2 separate regions of the Homo sapiens genome follow, and region 1 is linked to region 2. The links come from fine-mapping of genetic effects on gene expression. A gene starts in region 2. The other region holds a variant in brackets. All regions are shown on one strand. Distances are from middle to middle. Region 1 has its middle 83 kb from the start of ETV1. Region 2 holds the start of ETV1 (ETS variant transcription factor 1).

What was found. PIP is the estimated chance that this variant, and not a neighbour inherited with it, causes the effect.
Region 1: its variant is fine-mapped to the expression of ETV1 in subcutaneous fat (GTEx, PIP above 0.99). The same link has a PIP of 0.9 or more in visceral fat.

What each region holds. Positions count from the first base shown.
Region 1 is chr7:14,067,829-14,078,079 of GRCh38, reverse strand. It overlaps the pseudogene RPL6P21. Among named protein-coding and RNA genes, the nearest start is that of ETV1, 83 kb to the right of the region's middle. The variant C/A (reference allele first, on the strand shown) is at 4,323.
Region 2 is chr7:13,985,267-13,995,517 of GRCh38, reverse strand. ETV1 (ETS variant transcription factor 1) reads left to right here and starts at 5,852. Exons shown (of 14, transcript NM_004956.5): 1 at 5,852-5,955; 2 at 6,054-6,250; 3 at 6,379-6,510; 4 at 7,345-7,432; 5 at 8,833-8,880. The coding sequence starts at 6,466. RefSeq lists enhancers at 3,831-4,332, 9,678-10,251.

The DNA.
Region 1 (10,251 bases), 83 kb before region 2:
GTAGGTCGGGCATGGTGGGCTCACACCTGTAATCCCAGCACTTTGGGAAGCCAAGGTGGGTGGATCACCTGAGGTCGAGAGTTCAAAACCAGGCTGGCCAACATGGTGAAATCCCGTCTCTACTAAAAATACAAAAATTAGCCAGGCGTGTGGCGCGTGCCTGTAATCCCAACTACTCGGGAGGCTGAGGCACGAGAATCGTTTGAATCCAGGAGGCAGAGGTTGCAGTGAGCAGAGAGTGTTCCACTTCACTCCAGCCTGGACAACAGAGTGAGACTTTATCTCAAAAAAAAGAAAAAAAGAAAAAAGATAGCAAAAATCCACCTGCAGATTACGTTTGTACTTTTGTAATAGCCTGCTAAAGGTTGGTATGTGTTGAAATAGATAGCTAGACTAGCCATCAATATCAGCACAAACTTTCTTGTTACTTTTATACTAACTTTACAAGTCCTTTGCCTCTCTAATTTTCAGCTATCTGTATTTTATGGTATACACCTGCTAAATCAAGTCTGAGTCCTCTTCAGGTCAATTCTCCTCCATAGGCATAATTATCTGAGGAGTTTTTTATTTACTCTGCTAATGCATTTTACATCACATCAACATTAGGCTATTTTTTAAATGTTTTAACTGTGATGAAAAAGCTGTAATAAAGAGAGTAAAAATAAAGTAAACAATTATTTGTATATAAGATATTATAACAGATGGGACATACAGCAGGAAATCTTCTATGATCATATGCCAGCTCCTTTTTTTTTAATCTTCATCATCACAATTAATGGCCACACAATGTTCATTCAGATTACTATGAATCTGTGTTCTTCAGATTTCATTTGATAAATATTCTCAGTAAGTTGTTTCCTTCCATGGGTCTTTGTTAATAGACATATCTTGAGAAACAAAGAATCAAAATACATGGCCATATTAATATTGTTTCATGTAGTCATAGTCAGAGCTTTTATCAGTTTATCCATTTTGAGGACATAGCCCACTCCTTCATGTGTGTTTGTTAGTGTGCCTGTTAGCCAGCTCAGTTTAGTCCTTCTCTTCCTTTAGAAGAGGAAGAGATTCCAGCAGAGTGCTTGCTCCAGGACATCTGAGTTGAAGCTAAATGAGCTAGTATTCTTTTGCTCCAAGCCTCTCACAAGGAGAGACAGAATTATATTAGTGTTTCCTTTTTTTAACCTCCATTAATTAACTATCTTTCCCTCATTTACAATCTCACTTTTCTTCCTTCTATCATTAATTTTTATCTAAAGCTTTTCCACTGAGATGGGTCTCTCTGGTCCAGCCAATGGTCTGGTCCATATTGCTGATAACAAGATGACACATACTAAGGCTTCCTCTTTTATTCTATTCCCAGTCATAGTGAGTTAGATGGGAAAAGTACAAAGAAATAGAATCATTACACAAAATATTTGCCACAAGGTTGTCAGGCCAAACTTGGCAGTCTGGAGAAGAAATAATTTATCCCATCAATCGCTTTGGGATTCTTTCAGTTATATTCAGATTAATAGACATAATTTCTTTTTTGGGATATTACCAGCCTCTGGGACAGTAACTCTAACCTAGGAATAATTGGGTATAGCACTGAAAAGAAATTGTTTACATACAAGGGAAGATTTGAATGTAGTAAGCTCCTGCATCATCTCTTCTCCCGTCTTTTCCAATTTTATTTCAAATGCACAATAATTTATCTAACAGAGACCCATAATAATCCTCTTGGTAAAATAAAATTAATAAAGATAAAGCTGGAAGTTGTAGGGCAGCCCTTCAATCCTTTGTTACCTGCATCTTTTTAAATAGGTGTTTTAATTGCACATGTCAGTTTTTATTAACCCACCACTTCGGGAATATATTTTAAAAGTCTATTGAATGTGATATTTCTGTTTCTTTACCCATCATTTCTCTAGAAGTTAATAACTTAATCTGATGAAATGTAATTAAGAGGACCAAAATGATAGAGTATTTCTTTTTTTTTTTTTTTTGGTCACGGTTCTTTGATAACATAAGCAGCTTTGGCTTCAGTTAGTGAGTATGGGAATCCAAACCCAGAATGTGTATCAAGTTCTGTCAATATCCTTTTAAGTACCCTCCCCTGGAGCAATAGGTTAAAAGCCAATGTAATCTACTTGCCAACTATACGCTGGCAAGGGTGAACTGCAGATTTTGCCTTTTCCATTGGCATACAGAAAAAATTATATTGGTAGAGGCCACCAGGGTGTGTTGTAATTTGGCACATCATTGCATGGTTTGAATTTGTCTGTGTTCACCCATGTCTTGGACCGAGGTTACCACTTCAAGAAATCCAAGTAGAACATCAACTTCTTGAGTTCAGTCATCTCAGATCCTGACACAGGGTTGCTGTGTTGAGCATCAGTGTGCCTTTGATTTTTTTTCTCAGAATTTCCACAGAGATTTACAAAGAGCAGTACACCAGGTGGAGGCCCCTCTGTGGTCCATCTGATCCATTTTCCAGAACAAATTGAAAGCCAAAAAGTCAATATAGTCATTATAAAAAGCCAAAGAGTAGAGCCTTTTTTTTTTTTTAAGTTCTTCTATCATTGCGAAGAACACAGCCTGTAATACAGGCTCTGTACTTTTCCATGAGTATTTTACTGTTTGCTGAATGCAGAACAGCTGATTTATTTTGCTGTAGAGACAGGGTCTTGCTATGTTGACAAGGCTAGTATCAAACTCCTGGCCTCAAGCAATCCTCTTACCTCAGCCTACCAAAGTGCTGGGTTTACAGGTGTGAGCCATTGCACCCAGCCCTGATTTTCATGCCAGGTCTTGGCATTTGCTTTTGGAACTGTCTTTTGTGAACCAGGGCAATTGCCTTACATTCTAAGACAATTGCTCAAAAATATGCCCGTTCAACAATAGTACCATGCAAATCCTTAAGCAGCCTTACAGTAGGTCATAGGAAGAAAAAGGCTACTTGCTTACTAATGTAAGAAGTCTTTCCTGTAAATTATCTGGTAGGATGCTCTTACATATGCCCTTTTTATTCCATCTTATGTGGAAACTTCTTTCGGCATCTCCCTCTTTTTTTGCAATGCTTTACTGGGGCTTTAATATGGCCTTAAACAATTTACTTATTCGGGCTGTCTGTGTAGGTGCCCAATAATAAGCCAGTAACTATCTTTTAAAAGGAGTATACCAGAGAGGAGCATCTGGTCATTTTATAATTCAAAAGACAAGAGATAACTGTTCAGTAGCAGTGGTTATGGGGTTTTATGAAAGACTCCAGTTGGCTAAATATGAGTGGCCAACACTTCTAGTATCATTTCAACATTAGGACCATGTTATCCAAAAGAATAACTAGCATTACAGCCCTCAATTAAACATGGCCTTCTTTAAAAGATTTTAAGGATCAGATCTAACAGTATTCCAAATGACGGATGTGATTTCTGTAAAAGTCAAGAAAGGCCAATAGACATTGTTCAGGTTAAGAAACAGGCAGTAAAAATCATTCATTTTTAGTGGTCTGCAATAAGTCATAGGTTGCTCAAGTCCATGCAATGCTCAAAAGATTCACTGTCTATGTGGGGCTCTGAATTTTTGTGAGGTTAATCAACCATTCCTGATTATCATGCAATTTATGACTATAGTAAATTTGATTTTGGCTTGATTCTTAGGTTCTAAAATAATTATAATATCATCAATAGAAAACTGCCAGTTCTACTAGATCTACAACCCATGTTATCATATCACAACATTATAGGAGAGAATTCAAGGGTTTTTAATCATACATTACAAATGCTATCCAGACTGTTTTTACCCTACTACAATAGCATCCTCACATCCCTGTAAATTGATTTTGTTAGCCCTAAAAGACTCATGAGCAGGACTAGGCAGCACTATACACTGTGCTTCTTTATCTAATAGACCTCAAATAGTTTCCATTCCACCCCAGGCCATTTCAACCACACAATGTATTACTGGAGATTGGATCTAAAGGCACTGACCTTCATGTCAATTTTATTCTTATATTACAAAATAAATGTTAAAAGAGAGTATTTTGGCATCTAATACTGGAAGCTCATTAGAACTTTTCCTTGCTTGTATTTTATCTAGGTGCAAATAAGATGAGCATATCTTTCTCGATATTTTTAACATCAGGGGGTATTTGAGGAGAGATGGTTATGAGTCCCACAATTTCCTATGAAATTCCACCAAGCTTCAGGTGATCACACTATCAGTTTCCTCCTTTTGCATACCAATTTTAATCAGCCATCCCAGGACTTCCCTTCGATGTAATTAGACTCTGAATAGTTGCCTCTTTTATTATCTTGAAGTTTCATATGAGGAAGTGGAAGGAA[C/A]AAAAAGTTATTGCCTGCCTCCCATGAGGGAGCTTGTTTCCATGGAGGTGAAGGGTTACAATCAGGAAGTATCCCACTACATCACATGCCAGGAAAGGAAGGCCTCTTTGTCCCTCTAGACCTGAGACTTTCTTCTCACATTGAGCAACACCAGGCAGCCCAGTCTGGCTAAACCCCTCTCACTTCCATCCCTTCAAGCAGTATGAACAGGGAGCAGTGGGAGCCTCGGTAGTCCCAGATAAACCAAAGGCCAAAATAAAAACCATAAAGACCCAAAAAAAGTATAAAATTAAACTGTTATTAGAACAGCAGCCCACAAAAGTAGGCTAAGATGTGCACGCTAAAGCTTAACAGCGTGACTGACTGCTAAAATAAAAGATTCAAATAGGAGCCAGAATCTCCTAACACAATAGATAACAGTTCCAGAATACAATAAAAACATCACCCATCATACTAAGAATTAGGAAAATAAAAATTTGAATGAAAAAAGACTATCAACTAATGCCAACACTGAGATAAAGCAGCTGTTGGAATTATCTGACATAAAACTTTAACACAGTCATCAAAAAACACTTCAACATCAATTATAGATTTTTCTTGAAATAAATAAAAACAGAAAACTCAGAAAAGAAATAGAACTTATAAAAAGAACCAGTGGAAACAAACAGAAAATATAGAACTGCTGGCTTGGTTCAATGTAAGACTGGAGATGACAGAGGATAAAATAAGTGAACTTGAGGACAATCAATAGAATTTACCAAATCTGAATAAAAGGCAGAAAAATAGACAAAATATATGTGAACAGAGCCTCAGGAGCCTGTGATATATAGCAGTCATATCATTAGAGTCCCATAAGAAGAGAGAAAAAGAATGGGACTGAAATAGTATTTAAAGAAATCATTACTGAAAACTCTCCAAACTTGACAAAAGACACAAACCTTCGATCTAAGGAGTCCTGTGAACCCCAAACAGAATAAACCCAAGCAAATCTACACTAAAGCACAAAATCATTAACTTCTGAAAATAGCCAGAGAGACAGCACATTATCTACAGGGGAATACCAATTCAGATGATTTCTTATCTGTAACCATGAAGGCCAGAGCACGTGGCACAATATTTTTCCAGTGCTGAAAGAAAGAAACTGTTAACTTTCTTCTTCAGGAATTAAGGGGTAATTTGCCAGGAACCTCACATCTCTCCTTTTGGCAACTAATGGTACAACTAGACAGAAAATAAGCAAGGCTACAGATGAACTTACATAGAACACTCTACCCAACAACAGCATAATGTACATTTTTTTAAATGTAACCATGGAAAATTTACCAAGATAAGTCATACCCTGACCAGAAAATAAACCTTAAGAAAATTTAAAGAATTTAAATCATACAGTGTGTTCTCTGACTATAATGAGTCTAGTTAGAAATCAATAACAGAAATACAACAGGAAAATGTCTAAATACATGGAAAGCAAACAACAAACCACCAAAAAGCCCATAAAAAGATGGAAGGAAGAAAATCATAAAGGGCAGAAGTCAATAAAATTTAAAAATTGGAGAACAATAGGGACAATCAATTAAACAAAAGCTGTTTCTTCCAAAAAAATTAACAAAATTGACAAACCTCTGCAAAACTGACAAGAATAAAACAAACACAAATCATCAATATCAGGAATTAAATAGGGGATATCATCACAGATTCTATAGCCATTGAAAGAATAATGAGGCCGGGCACGGTGGCTCACGCCTGTAATCCCAGCACTTTGGGAGGCTGAGACGGGCGGATCATGAGGTCAAGAGATAGAGACCATCCTGGCTAACATGGTGAAACCCCATCTCTACTAAAATTACAAAAAAATTAGCCGGGCGTGGTGGCAGGCGCCTGTAGTCGCAGCTACTCTGGAGGCTGAGGCAGGAGAATGGAGTGAACCTGCCATTGCACTCCAGCCTGGGCGACGAGCGAGACTCTGTCTCAAAAAAATAATAATAATAATAAAATAATGAGAAAGTATAACAGACAATTTTACATACATAAATTTGATAACGTAATGTAACAAATTCCTCAAAAGCCACAAACTACCTAAACTGACCCAAGGTGAAATAAATGTTATAAATATTCCTATAGCTATTAAAGAAATTTGATTCATATTTTGAAAGGACGCAAAAAGGAAATCTCTAGCTCTAGCTGGTTTTGTTGGTGAATTCAACCAAACATTTAAAGAAGAATTAACATCACTTTTGCAAATTTTACACTACTTATTTCAGAATTAGAAAAAGAAGGGACACTTTCTAATTTATTTTACCAAAACCAAAGGAAGTACAAAAAAAATTACCGGCCAGTATCTCTCAAGAATTTACATGACTCTTTCCCATCTTGCAAGATGGCAGATGAAAAAGCTGATAAACTGGATACTAAAGAGAAGAAACTCAAAGCCAAGAGGGCTGATGGTGACAGGGTGAAAAAGGGTGACATGACCTCAAAGCTAAAAAGCCCACGAAAGGGAAGCTTCATTGCAGCTGAAATCCTGTCCTTGTCTGAGGAACTGGCAGATGTTCCCAATCTGCTACATATTGCAGAAGGGCCATGCACAAGAGGAAGTACTTAGCCGCTAAATCCAAAGTTGAAAAAAAAAAAAAAAAATGAAGGAAAGGTGTGTGGTGACAAGCAGGGTGGTGCCCAGATAGTTAAACTTCGCAAAATCCCTAGATATTATTCTACTGGAGATGTGCCTCGAAAGCTGTTGAGCCACAGCCAAAAACCCTTCAGTCAGCACTTGAGAAAACTACGAGCCACAGTCACCCCCGGGGCCATTCTGATCATTCTCACTGAGTGCTACAGAGGCAAGAGGGTGGTTTTCCTGAAGCAGGTGGCTAGTGGCTTGTTAGTTGTGACTGGATCTCTGGCCCTCAATTGAGTTCCTCTACAAAGAACACACCAGAAATTTGTCATTGCCATCTCAACCAAAATTAATATCAGTAATGTAAAAATCCCAAAACATCTTACTGACATTTCAAGAAGAAGCGGCTATGGAAGCCCACACACCAGGAAGGTGAGATCTTCAACACAGAAAAAACAAATACAAGATTACAGGGCAGCACAAGATTGATCAGAAAACTGTGGACTCACTAATTTTCCCCAAAATCAAAGCTATTCCTCAGCTCCAGGACCACCTGCATCTGTGTTTGCACTGACAAATGGAATTTATCCTCACAAATTGGTGTTCTAAATTTCTTAAGAACCAAATTACATAATTGATAACAACAAAGAATTTACATGAAAAACCATCAACAAAAATATTAGTAAACCCAATTTAACAATATGCATAAAAAGAACTTTCCTGCATTACCAAATAACATTAATTCCAAGTATGTTAAGACTGATTAAACATTTGAATATCATTCAGTGTAATCCACTGAATGAAGAAACACCTGAGGCTGGGTAATTTATAAAGGAAAAAGGTTTAACTGACTCACAGTCCCGCAGGGTTGGGGAGGCCTCAGGAAACCTACAGTCAGTCATGGCAGAAGGGGAAGCAAACACATCCTTCTTCACACCGCAGCGGGAAAGAGAGGAGTGCCTCTTATAAAACGACCAGATCTCGTGAGAACTCACTCACTATCACAAGAACAGCATGGGGGTAATTGTCCCTATGATTCAATTACCTCACCCTGGTTCCTTCCCACAACACCTGGAGATAATGGAAACTACAATTTAAGATGATACTTAGGTGGAGACACAGTCAAACCATATCACAATCATGTCAATAAGCTAAAAAAAAACATATGAGCATTTTAAGTGGCCCACAAAAATAACAAAATCCAAAATTGATTCATGATTTATAAAAAAAGGAACGTTCAGCAAATGAGAGATAGAGAAGTACCACAGTTTGCTGAAGAGCAACTGTAAAAACCCTACAGTCAACATTTTACTTAATGGTTGAAGACTATAATACACTTTCTCTTTAAGATCAGGAAGAAGACAAGAATATCTACTCTCATTACTCTTATTGAACATATTACTGGAAACTTTAATTACTGCGATAGTGCAAGATAAAGAAATAAAAGGGATACAGCTTATAAAGTAAGAAACTGCTCCTAAAGTTGAACAATGTGGTACAATAAAAGATCAAGTCACAAAAATGAATCATGTATTTATACACTAATGATGAACATTCTGAAACGGAAATTAAAAACACAGTATCATTTATGATCACTCCAAAGAAAATGAAATACTTAGGTCTATACTTAACCAAAAATATACAGAATCCACATGCTATAATTTTTTTTTTTAGACGGAGTCTTGCTCTGTTGCCAGGTTGGAGTGCAGTGGCGCGATCTTGGCTCACTACAACCTTCGACTCCCTAGTTCAAGCGGTTCTCCTGCCCTAGCCTCCCGAGTAGCTGGGATTACAGGCACGCATCACAACGCTCAGCTAATTTTTGTATTTAGTGTAGAGACGGAGTTTCACCATGTTGGCTAGGACGGTCTCGATCTCCTGACCTCGTGATCTGCCTGCCTCGGCCCCCCAAAGTGCTGGGATTACAGGCATGAGCCACCGTGCCCGGCCTACATGCTATAAATTTTAAGATATTGACAAAAGAAATGAATGAATATCTAAGTAAATGGAGAAGCATACCTTGCATGAATTGGGTTGGAATTTTCTTCAAATTGGTTTATAGACTTAATGTAATTCCAAAGGACCTACAATAGCTTATGCAATTTTGACAAAGAAGGAAAGAAAGAAAAACAGAAGAAAAGAGAATAATGCAAGAGGAGTCAGTCTACTCAACATTAAGGCTTACTCTATAAACGTAACTATAATTTTATATATTTTTTATATATATATAATTTTATATATACATACATATAAAGATTTTTACAGTCCAGGAGTAGGCAATGAATTATTATTAGACTTGACACCAAAGGCCCAATCCATAAAGAAAAAAATGTATAAATTCAACCTCATTAAAATTAAAAACTTTTGCTCTGCAAAATACTATTAAGAGGATGAAAAAACAAACCAAAGCCTGAAAGAGAATATTTTCAAAACACATATCTGTCAAAAGACTAGTATCTAGACTAGATAAATTACTCCCAAAACTTAACAGTTAAAGAAACAAATAATCCAATTAGAAAATGGGCAAAATACAAAGAGATACATCACCCATGAAGATATAAAAATCCTTCAGTAATAAGCATATGAAAATATGTTCATATCATTAGACATTAGGAAAATATAAACTCAAACCACAATGTAATGTCACTAATCTTTTTTCTATTTTTAAAATGTTTCATCTTAAAAGGTTATATAGGCCGGGTTTGGTGGCTCATGCCTGTAATCCCAGCACTTTGGGAGGCTGGGGCAGGAGGATCATGAGGTCAAGAGATGGAGACTATCCTGGCTAACACGGTAAAACCACATCTCTACAAAAATACAAAAAATTAGCTGGGCATGGTGGTGGGCGCCTGTGGTCCCAGCTACTTGGGAGGCTGAGGCAGGAGAGAGAATTGCTTGAACCCAGGAGACGGAGCTTGCAGTGAGCCGAGATGGCGCCACTGCACTCCAGCCTGGGCAACAGAGCGAGACCCCATCTCAAAAAAAAAAAAAAAAAAAAAGTTATATACATGGTCCAAAGAAAATAATACAAAAATAAATAAATAAAATGTTATATAAATGGAGTAATATAATATGTAATCTTTTAAGATGGAGTTCTTTTTTAAATTCAATAATTCCCTGGAGATGTATCCAAGTTGGTATGTATCAATAGTTCCTTCCTTTTTGTTGCTAAGAAGTATTCAATAGTATGGATGTGCCATAGTTTGTTAAACATGGAAGAGAGATTAGTGGTCCGCAAGGGACAGAGATGGAAAACTTTTGTGGGGAGGGAGGTTGACGTGATTATAAAAGAGCAATAGGAAGAAACCTAGTGGT
Region 2 (10,251 bases):
ATAATTTATCTCTAATTAATTAACTCTAATAAACTACTGATTTCTTCCTTCATGTAGTGGGTTAAGAAAAAATACGTCTATGAAACTTGCATGTTGTAACAAACCATTTCAAGTATTAGAAAAAAATATTATCTTTTGATTCCCACTTGCAATCCAAACTATTAGAAAAATGTAACTTAGTGTAAAAGATAAGTGTGTATCCTTCCCTGCCACTCATTTGATCATAAAAATTTTAATATTTATAGGTAATATAGCATCTTAAAAAATAAAACTATAGATATATATACCTTACATTGTTAGTGGGGGTGATATTACTCCCAAGTGTTGAAAACTGGTTATTGGAGGGATGTATCTTAGGTGTCATAATGGTTTGTGACACTCTAAAGGACTACAGGACACAAACAGATACACAGTAAAACTGTGGTATTAAAATATAATGAGAAGGAGGTGATAAGGAATAAACATGTCTAAAAAAGCTCCTTGGGGACAATAACAAAAAAAAGGTTGTGAATACATATATATGTGTAAGTGTATATACACACCTTTATGTACACTATTTTTTCTTTTTAACGAAAACAGAATATATGGTACTGTATATTCTGTCTCTTGCTTTTATTATCATTCAATACGCTATGTCACATGTAAATCATAGTTGCATGCAAATCATTTCAGAGGTAAGGTAGGTAACATCAACAAGACAAACAGGGTTTGGGGAAGAATGTAGACCATGGCAAAACTGTGAGCCCATGCTTCTTCATGAGGAACATCAGCTCCTTTACATCAGCTCCAGCTCATGGTTGCTATGTGGGAATTTAGGCCCAGTGTTACCATATTCTCTAATTTTTCAAGCAATGGAAGTCTAAATTTTTGTGTATAATATGAATTTTGAATGTTGACAATAACTTTCCCTTGAGGGTCAACATTATGTGGGTCAAGCAAAACAGGTCTGGACTAGCACACAATGCTGGCTTCCTTTTGGACTTGTGAGGTAGAAGTTCAACTCACGATTTTTCAAAGAAATGTTGACATACTAACTGCAACACAACCTCCTGCAACAGAATTCCCACGTGATTTGCTCAAGCCTACGGAATCAGAAACTCTATGAATCCACCCAGGGATGTCACTTTTTAACAAGGAGTGTCTTATATAATCTCAAATTTGAGAACCAACCATATAGCATACTTTTTAACAGGTATATAATGATAATTGAATTCCAAACTATAAGAGTATCATACTTTGTCAAATCCATTTCCTTATTGGTGGATACTGAAGTTGCTGCCAGATTTTTTCCTTGGTACCTAATATTTCAATAAATGTCTTCATGCACCATTGCTTTTATTTTTGTAGTATAGATTTCCCAAATGAGGATTATTGGATATAATTTTAGGGTCTAATAGATGTTCATTTTAAAGTCTAGTAGACATTGTAAGCTTACCTTCAAAAGGTTTCAAAAAGTCACATTCCAACCAGCAATATACATGAGTGCCCTTATCCTAGGATCCAACTCTAAGTATATTAGAAACTTCCTTCCAAATTGATGAGTTAAAACATTCTTTAAGGCAGGGCGCGGTGGCTCATGCCTGTAATCCTAGCACTTTGGGAGGCCAAGGTGGGCGGATCACAAGGTCAGGATTTGAGACCAGCCTGACCAATATGGTGAAACCCCATCTCTACTAAAAATACAAAAATCAGCTGGGCATGGTGGCGGGCACCTGTACTCCCAGCTACTTGGGAGGCTGAGGCAGGAGAATCACTTGAACCCAGGAGGTAGAGGTTGCAGTGAGCCGAGATCGCGCCACTGCACTTCAGCCTGGGTGACAGAGCAAGACTCTGTCTCAAAATAAATAAATAAATAAATAAATAAATAAATAAATAAATAATAAAAATAAAAAAATTCTTTATTTTTTAAGTGTACAGTATAATGTACTGATTTGGGGTGCAGTTAAAAGTTTTTTTTTCCACATTTATAAGTTGTTTGCAATTCCTCTACTTGAGGGAGTTTACAGATAGTCACCAGCTGAAAATGGCAGTATTGAGAGTGAGAGAGTATACAGCTACATAGTATCAGTTTCCTTGATACCCTTACCTTCTTCCCAGGCTCCACCCTCCTCTCAAATTTCTGCTACTCCTCACATACAGTGTTCCTGAAGCCACTGATTATCTTTCACCCTCCTGTGAGGACTCTATGTTCTCCTTTGGAATTATTTTCACTTGTTCATTTTCTTGGCCAATTTTGCTGTTTAATTTTATATCTTTTTCTTATCTATTTGATGTAACTGTGCAAACTAGATCTTTAACAATTTGCCTTACATACTGTTTTAATACAACAAATTTTAAAAGTTACTGTTTTACTTAATACTCTACTCAATTTTGAGCAAACTTCATTTGATTTTAATTATAGCAACCATTTAAAACAAGCAGCGCCATTTTAGCTTGTTGCCTTTCTGTAACTGCTTTTAGAAATTCACTTTCTTTAACAACGTGCAATTTCTTCATAATGCCATAGTAAGTTAACTGTAGAGAAGTCACTAATGAATATTATTTTACTTTATTAAATAACAGCAAGGGAAATATAAAAATTTAAATAGTTTTACATGCAACCTAAAAACTTTCCAAACTCAAAAATGGACTTTTTTTTGGAGGGGGGTAGCTTTCTCTCAAGAACTCTTATTTCAAAATCCAAATGGGATTTCAAAATACAAGCAAATAAATGTCAAAGCCTCTTGGCCTCTGCTCTGCCATTCTATGCCTGAAATCCTGCCAAAATGAAATTTTCCGTTCAAAAGGGCTGGCATTTACTAAACTGATGTTTTAAAGACATTCTCAAAAAGTAGTGGAAACTTTGTCCAGCTTTTTATGTTCCTGTCTTGTAGACAGAACAGCTGCCTTTGCAGATATTTTCCAAGATCTTACATTTTCTGAAAAACAAATTTTCAGCCCTTCCACTGTCTTCAGCAAGTGGGTCTATTGGTTTTTCCCAGTGCCAAGCAGAGAAGATAAACAACTGCCAAACTAGAAGCTAGTGTCTGAGTATCAAGGCATAGAAAGGACAGAAGAGATAGTGTTTCAGTAAGTATCAATGCAGAGAAAGGACAGAAGAGAAAGTGGGAGAAAGAAAAGAGGGTGGTTCAATCGTTCACAGTCAAGAGGGACACATTTATCTCAAAATTTTAGGCTGTTTCAACAAAACCGAGCTGTAGCGAGACTAGCTGCTTATTCACACGAGAACATCATTTTCAGTTACTATGAAGATCAAAGAGTTAAAAGATATGAGTTCGTTTAAAGAACTCAAAAGGGAAAATATGAAGCCACCGCAATACGTAGTAAAATCTGAGGCTTAACAGCGCAGCGCCTGAGAGTGCCAGTCCACTAAAGGGAGGGAGAAGGGGCGCAGAGCTTATGGGGGCCTGGGAAGGAGTGATAAGTCTTTGGAAATGGAAACTAAAGCTATCAGCCAGCGAAAACCATCAATATTCCTAAAAATATATAATACTAATAATACATAAAAGCTTTAAAAAACTAACAAGACACTGTGGGATACAAAAAAAGGTAGAAATGAAAATTACAGAATGTTAAGTGAAAAAACTGAAATCCATCTACAGTCGAACAGTTTGCACCTTTAAAAGCAATGACTTGAAGCAGCAAGCAAAAGTTCCCAGTCCTTAAGACTTTCTCCCCACTCTCAATTCTTTCTTTCCTCTAGTGCAAAAGCTGTCTAAGCAGTGCACGCCGGAATTATCCCCACGTGAGCCTTCCTTTAATTTCGGTCTTAATTTTTTTCTCTCTTGTTATTACTCCCAGACCCCAACCTCTTTTTCCTCATCTAGTATCTGTTTCAGGGACAGGACAAAGAGGAGGCAGCGAGCTGAAAAAAGTTTTGTGGTTTGGGATACTTGGGCCTTTGTTGTGTCATTTCCTCTACCCCTCCACGCCCCCAACCACGTGACCAAGAAGGGCCGGAATTTTGTGAATGGAGACGAAAGGTGGCTGTTGGGGCGGGCGGGACTCCGCCCCCTTCCCTAAAGCGGCCAATCTCCTAGCGGAGCGCTGAGGGGTCAGCAATAAACAACAATGGGCTGGGGATTTACGGCTCGTTATTGGCTGCGGGAAGAACCTCGCCGGGACCTAACCCGAAGCTCCGCCCCCTCGCGGTTACCCTGGATACCCGTCAGGCTCGGGCTGCAGAGAAGGTCTTTGGAAACTGTTGCTCAGATTACAGGCGCTGGGTTATTCCAGGAGTGCAGGGTGGTGGAGGACCCTTGTTATTGACCCCCTGCTTGGTTGCACCCTCAGATAGTACCCATGAGCTTCACTGTTCAGCCTCGGGGCCCAGGCGCTTCCTGGAATCTCTCCTTGGCCGGGGTTAAAATGCAGTTCCCGCTCAAAATGCTTATAGGTGCGCGCGTTGTGAACTCCGATTTAGTAGTTTCCGGGAATGCGCGGGGTCTGTCTTTGCTGTCCATAGTTATTGGTTGTTTTCCCAGTAATAAGTGTTGATTGTTTGTTTGTTTGCTTCTTTTTTAAGTAGATCTTTCTCCTGCCCAGGTCCGGGGTTGAGTGCTGTGCGCTCTTACACTCCATTTTAATGTGTCTCCATAACGTTCTATTTAAGGAAGGAAACTTTCAAATAGAAATTGAGAACTGCAGCACGTTTCCTAACGGGCGGAACAGCTGCCGGAAACGTCTTTTGGTCACTAGTTCTGGTCACAAATGAATTTCAACAGCATTGAGTCCCTGGTCCTATCCCCGCGGCCTCCCGTCCGCTGTTGGACACTGGCTCCTTAAAGTGACGCTTTACTGTTCTGAGTCCCATAGGAGGATCAGGGCAAGTGGCTTCAGAGATGCAGCCCTCACTGCTTAACGTCCTAGTTATTGTCCTTGAAACCCGAGCCATCTCACCGCTCGCCCCCAACCCTGGGCTCTGGCTGTTTAAAAGCTGGAGAGGAAGTGAAAGCGTCAAGTACAGTAAGTGACACCCTCCGCCTCCGTGTATACATAACAAAAGCTCAGGAAACGTGCGGGTTCTAGGATATACGAGCAACCCCAAGCACTCCCTCCTCCTCCCCACAGCCACAGTGGACTGGAAGTACCTTTTCCCAGTGCACACGTAGGGACCATTTTGACTTATACTTTTTCACCTAGCTTGCTCTGTTGTCCTCCCATCACAACCTCTGCTAATCAGCAATTCTGCATCTCCTAGGTGCCTTCCTTATAGATTCTTTATGTTTCTGTCCCACGAACGATAGGATCTAATTTTAGTTGAGGATGACTGTTTAAAAAATGTTTCGATAAACCATAATGGTGATGGTGGGTTTTGAAAAACGGGAAAATAAATTGGGCCAAAAGCTGAGTGGGAATGAGGATAGAGAGCGAGGTGAGCTCCTAGTCAGGGCAAGAGTAGAGAGGTTGGAGATCCTGAGGGGAGGGCAGCTGAATAAGGCGGTACGGGCTTTGTGGATCGCGGCTCTAAGGGTATACCAGAACCGCACAACAGTACTTTAAGGAAACCAGCCCAATAGTGGACCTAACACCCCAATAATGGGAACTGGCGACTCGAAACACACGGTTTCAGTATCCCCAGGCGCCTTAACAATAAGCAGCGGGTTACAGAGGAAATCGAGTCTCTCCGTGGCGCTTCCAGGCTGAGGACCCAGCGCCTACCGGCCGAGCACCCCCTAGGGCAGAGGGGCGAGGGAGACCCGCGGGAAGGGGCAGCAAGCCGCCTGATTGACAGCCCGAAATCTGATCTTGTGAAAGAGACGCGGAGCCAATGGGAGGCAGCGATCCATCAGTTTGGATTGGAGGCCCCTGGAGGAGAAGTAGAGGAAAAACCACCGAATTGAGCTCTGTCAGAGGCGCTTTCGGCTTCCAAGGGGGAAGTGCTGGGCTATAATTAATGTTTTTATTAAATTTGGAGGGAAGTTTTTGCAGCCTTTCGCCTAGCGTGGCCTTCAGGTGGGTCTTTCCAACAACTTTTTATGTCTCTCCAGATAATTGCATGGTTGTGGGTCGCAAAAACTATCCTGATGAAAGAGGTGTCTCCGTCTCTTTAGTCCCGTTAGGTGCAAAGCAAGTCTCGTTGATCGCCATTGCTAGTTTTGCACACGTTTGCGAATCAGAGCTGCCCGGGGTACACCGACCGCGCAGGGAAACATCGAGAGTGTAAATAAATACATCGCCTCTTGTTCGGATTTTTGCTACTACCGAAAATATGTAAATTGTGAACTCTGTTGGCTCTCTTTGGATCCAGGTGAAGGAGGCGGTGTAGGGAGGGTTATTTTTGTGAATGGGACTGTCGGAGGGTAATTAGCTATGCAAATTCAAGAGCTTCATTCATGATTTTTTTTTAAGCCTAAAAGCCATCTTGTTCCCCTCTAGGTTGATAGAAGTCCAGATCCTGAGGAAATCTCCAGCTAAATGCTCAAAATATAAAATACTGAGCTGAGATTTGCGAAGAGCAGCAGCATGGATGGATTTTATGACCAGCAAGTGCCTTACATGGTCACCAATGTGAGTGATCAGTTTGAAAGTTGCTGTTTATAAACTTGACTCCGTCGGGGGTGGGGAGAGGGAGAAAATGAGAAGGGAGGGGGCACGGGGGTTGGGATTGCAGATACTTATCTGCTTTGTTGCCACTGTAGGGCGACTCTGCTTCTAGAAGCCCAGTCTTCAAAATGAGCTTACCTTTCAGTGATTTGGATAAGGCATAGTTTTGTTTTTAAGACCCCTTTTTCTGATTAAAGTGCCCAACATGAGTGGAAGAGGAGATGGAGGGCAGCAGCAGCTGCTGCACTCAAAGTTTTTGGCTGGGTTTGTCTGCCACATTGAAAAGAATGAAGTTGAGACAAATGCTGACACTTTTTGTTTATATGGGGTGTTTTTGTTTCTTTTTTTTTTCTCATTTTCTCTTTTTTTTTTTTTTCATTTCTCTACTCTTTTTGCTTTTTTTTTTTGTGGGGGTGGGGTGGGGAGGAGGGGCTGTCCAAGAGAGAATAAAACCCACTGTTTTAATCTAGCATTGAACCAGCCTAAAAACAACTTTAAGTGTAAATGCTTCAGGTTGTTTTGATGCTGAGATACCATGAATATATGATTGATAAATAGTAATGTGCTAAGATCGGCACTGGGAAGCAACTCTCCCTGCCTGCTTAACATAAGCTTTCACTGTCAAATAAGTGAGAAAATGAATATTAGAGTTGATACTATGGACTTCTATTTTTCTATTCAGAGAAGATCCATTAGACTTATGTATGCATGTCTGTGTGTGTGTGTGTGCGCGCGCGTGTGCGTGTGTGTGATCTGAGGTTTACATTCTTTTAAAGGATTTTATCTTTCCCTTTGTAGAGTCAGCGTGGGAGAAATTGTAACGAGAAACCAACAAATGTCAGGAAAAGAAAATTCATTAACAGAGATCTGGCTCATGATTCAGAAGGTGAGGTTTGATTTTGGGCTGAATCCCCATTTTTTTACCTACACTCTCCACCCTGCTAAAAGAAAAGGAGCACTTCAGTCTTATCTTAAAAATAATAAACTTTGAAATTACTGAATCTAACTAAGACTTTAACTTGGAACGATTTACATAATGCGGCAGTTTGCATGGGAGACTATTTTATGGTCCTATCACAAAGTAATGAAAGAAGGAAATAAAAACTTCTCAATGACAACCTTCTTTTAATCATTGTTTTGTGTTTAAATACCTTTGTCCATGGGGCATATAACTCACCCCATTCACTAAGATAACAATTTAAAAATATCCAATACAGTGGGACAAATTCAGCAGCTATGTACACTGCTTACTTTTTTCTTTCTCCTTTATTACAAGTTAAACAGTATTAGTGATTGTTTGGTTTCCCACCTCCTTTACACTAAAACCATCTACTATTAACAGAATTTTCAAGGGTGATTTTGATGACTAAATTGTGAGGTCATAATACCTTGTTTATCGACCATAATGTGTTCACTGAATCATACTTAAGGCCTCCTTAATAATTATAATACTATTTGGGAAATTAGTTTGCAGATTCTTTTTATGAACTGTTGCTAGGATGTCAGTATGTTACAAATTATTTTAGCCATATGAGGACATTCATAATAAACTTAATATACTTAGATTTAATTATCAAAGTTTAGTTGGCAATTTTAATTAGATATACTGAATTCTGAAACTTCCTCAAATCTTCATACCATTTAAATACCTCCCTCTCTCCCTCCCTAACATGACCATATAGTTTAGAACTTGATGAGAACCTGGTGCCAAAGAATTATCTTTCTGACTTTTATAAACCTATTAATGTAGAAATTTTCCTCTAAAAACTTGTATTTGAAGTGGTTTCTTTTAGTTTCGAGGTATTGAAGTTGAAAACATAATACTTTGACAGTTGTACCATGTACCATTATATATTTTATGTAAGATTCAGAAGATATAAATAAAATGCTTTTCAGTCTTTCTAATCTTCCCCCTACTACTATTTTAGCAAGAGTTAAATATATTTAAGGAAGATTTCAGTGAACAGACACATATTCACCTCAGCCTTTTTGTGAATTCTGGTATCCCTGAGCTTATTTATTAAGCTGTTTGTTAAAAAGAAGAAAAGATGATTGACTTTATTCTTTAGTTGACTAAAATAATTTCTTAAAGAGTTGCTTAATAGGCATGAAAAGTAGGCAGTATTATTGAGATATTTAAGTTATGCCTCTTTTTTTTATTTTTATGTTGACTGCGTCTCTTGAAATTAAATTTATATTTAATACCAATTTCATGACAAATATTTCCATTTAATGAAGATTAAAGATTTGCAAATCTTATGTTTATGTCTTTGACTTGTTTTTTAGAACTCTTTCAAGATCTAAGTCAATTACAGGAAACATGGCTTGCAGAAGGTAAGGCAAAATTTGCTTTAAAAGGGGGGAAAGCAACTCTAGAAGGAGAAAGAAAAGAAGTCCTGAACTTGCTGTCTTAATATTCAGCCCAATTAATTGAGCTCTAAAAGAGCCACCTCATGTGTCATGCATACATTAGAGCCTCTGATGAGTTTGTCTTTGGGGACTCTGGGGCTGTACTACCCAGTGTCATCACAAATTACCAGGAGAAATTGCTTCCAGCTCACAATCACATCTGCTTTTGGCAAGAACTAATGCACCAAGACTTCAAGTTCTAAGCCTCTGTTCAGATTTTAATTGCAATTGATCAGGTTTATATTATTGTACCTCCAGAGACCTCCTAGAGCCAGAACCCGGCTGGCTTGCTGTTTCCTTTAGAGCAGCGCATATCATTATTTGGTGTTCTGGTGGAGGACTTTTCTGATGGCAGAAATTAGTTTCTCTGGGTTCATCAGGACGGGATGCTTCAAGATTTAAGTGCAAGTGTCTTCTTTCCACCTTGTTCACAACACAGAACGTTAGGTGTGTATCTAATGCTTAGGAAATCTATGGGTTTAAAATAAATGGGAGATATGAGGATTTTAAAAATGTTTTCCATGTGTTACTATTCATGTTATGTTTGCTGAAATTGACCTTTGCTATTTTGTCAGTTTTATTAGGATTTATTTAATAGAGCAAGGATACATTTAAAGGCATTACTTTCATTTTGAATTATTTTTTGTTAAAATTTTGTGGTGCAATCTGTTATATCTTTTATCGTATGCAACTTTATAGGAAAATGAGATTGCTTCATAAAGCTTTATACAACTTCAAAAATGCCTAATGTTGAGGGACTTCTGTTGGCATTCATAATTTGAAATTTTTCTTTTGGATTTGGCATACAAATGTGAAACATTAATTTTATGGTGTGGTTTGTGGGAAATACAAAGAGAAAAATTATAGATATTTAAGCATTGAGTGTATAACAGTATTATTTGTGTGTTCACATTATATGGGAAACATGCAAATTTTGGAACAGATTTTAAGATGGTTAAAAAGGAGAGAGTGGGTCTCTTTAAATGGAACCCAGGTGTTACTGTAGCTACTTTGAGGCAGACTGACGTGTTTTATCGGTGGTCTTGAATGCAGTTGATCAAGTTGCTGTTAGCATGTAAAATAAGTTTCTTTGTTTTGCTGATAGTCTAGTTCTCCAAAGAGCTTTTTCAATCTTTATCAATCTTTAAAGTTAAATAGCTTTCCTAATAGTCCTTTGAAAGGATGATTGTATTTATATGTTAATGAAGGTAAGACTTACTGAAAGTTTTGGCTATATTTAAGGATCATTTTGCTAGTCTGTGTAAATGAAACTTACTGCAATACATTACTTTTTAT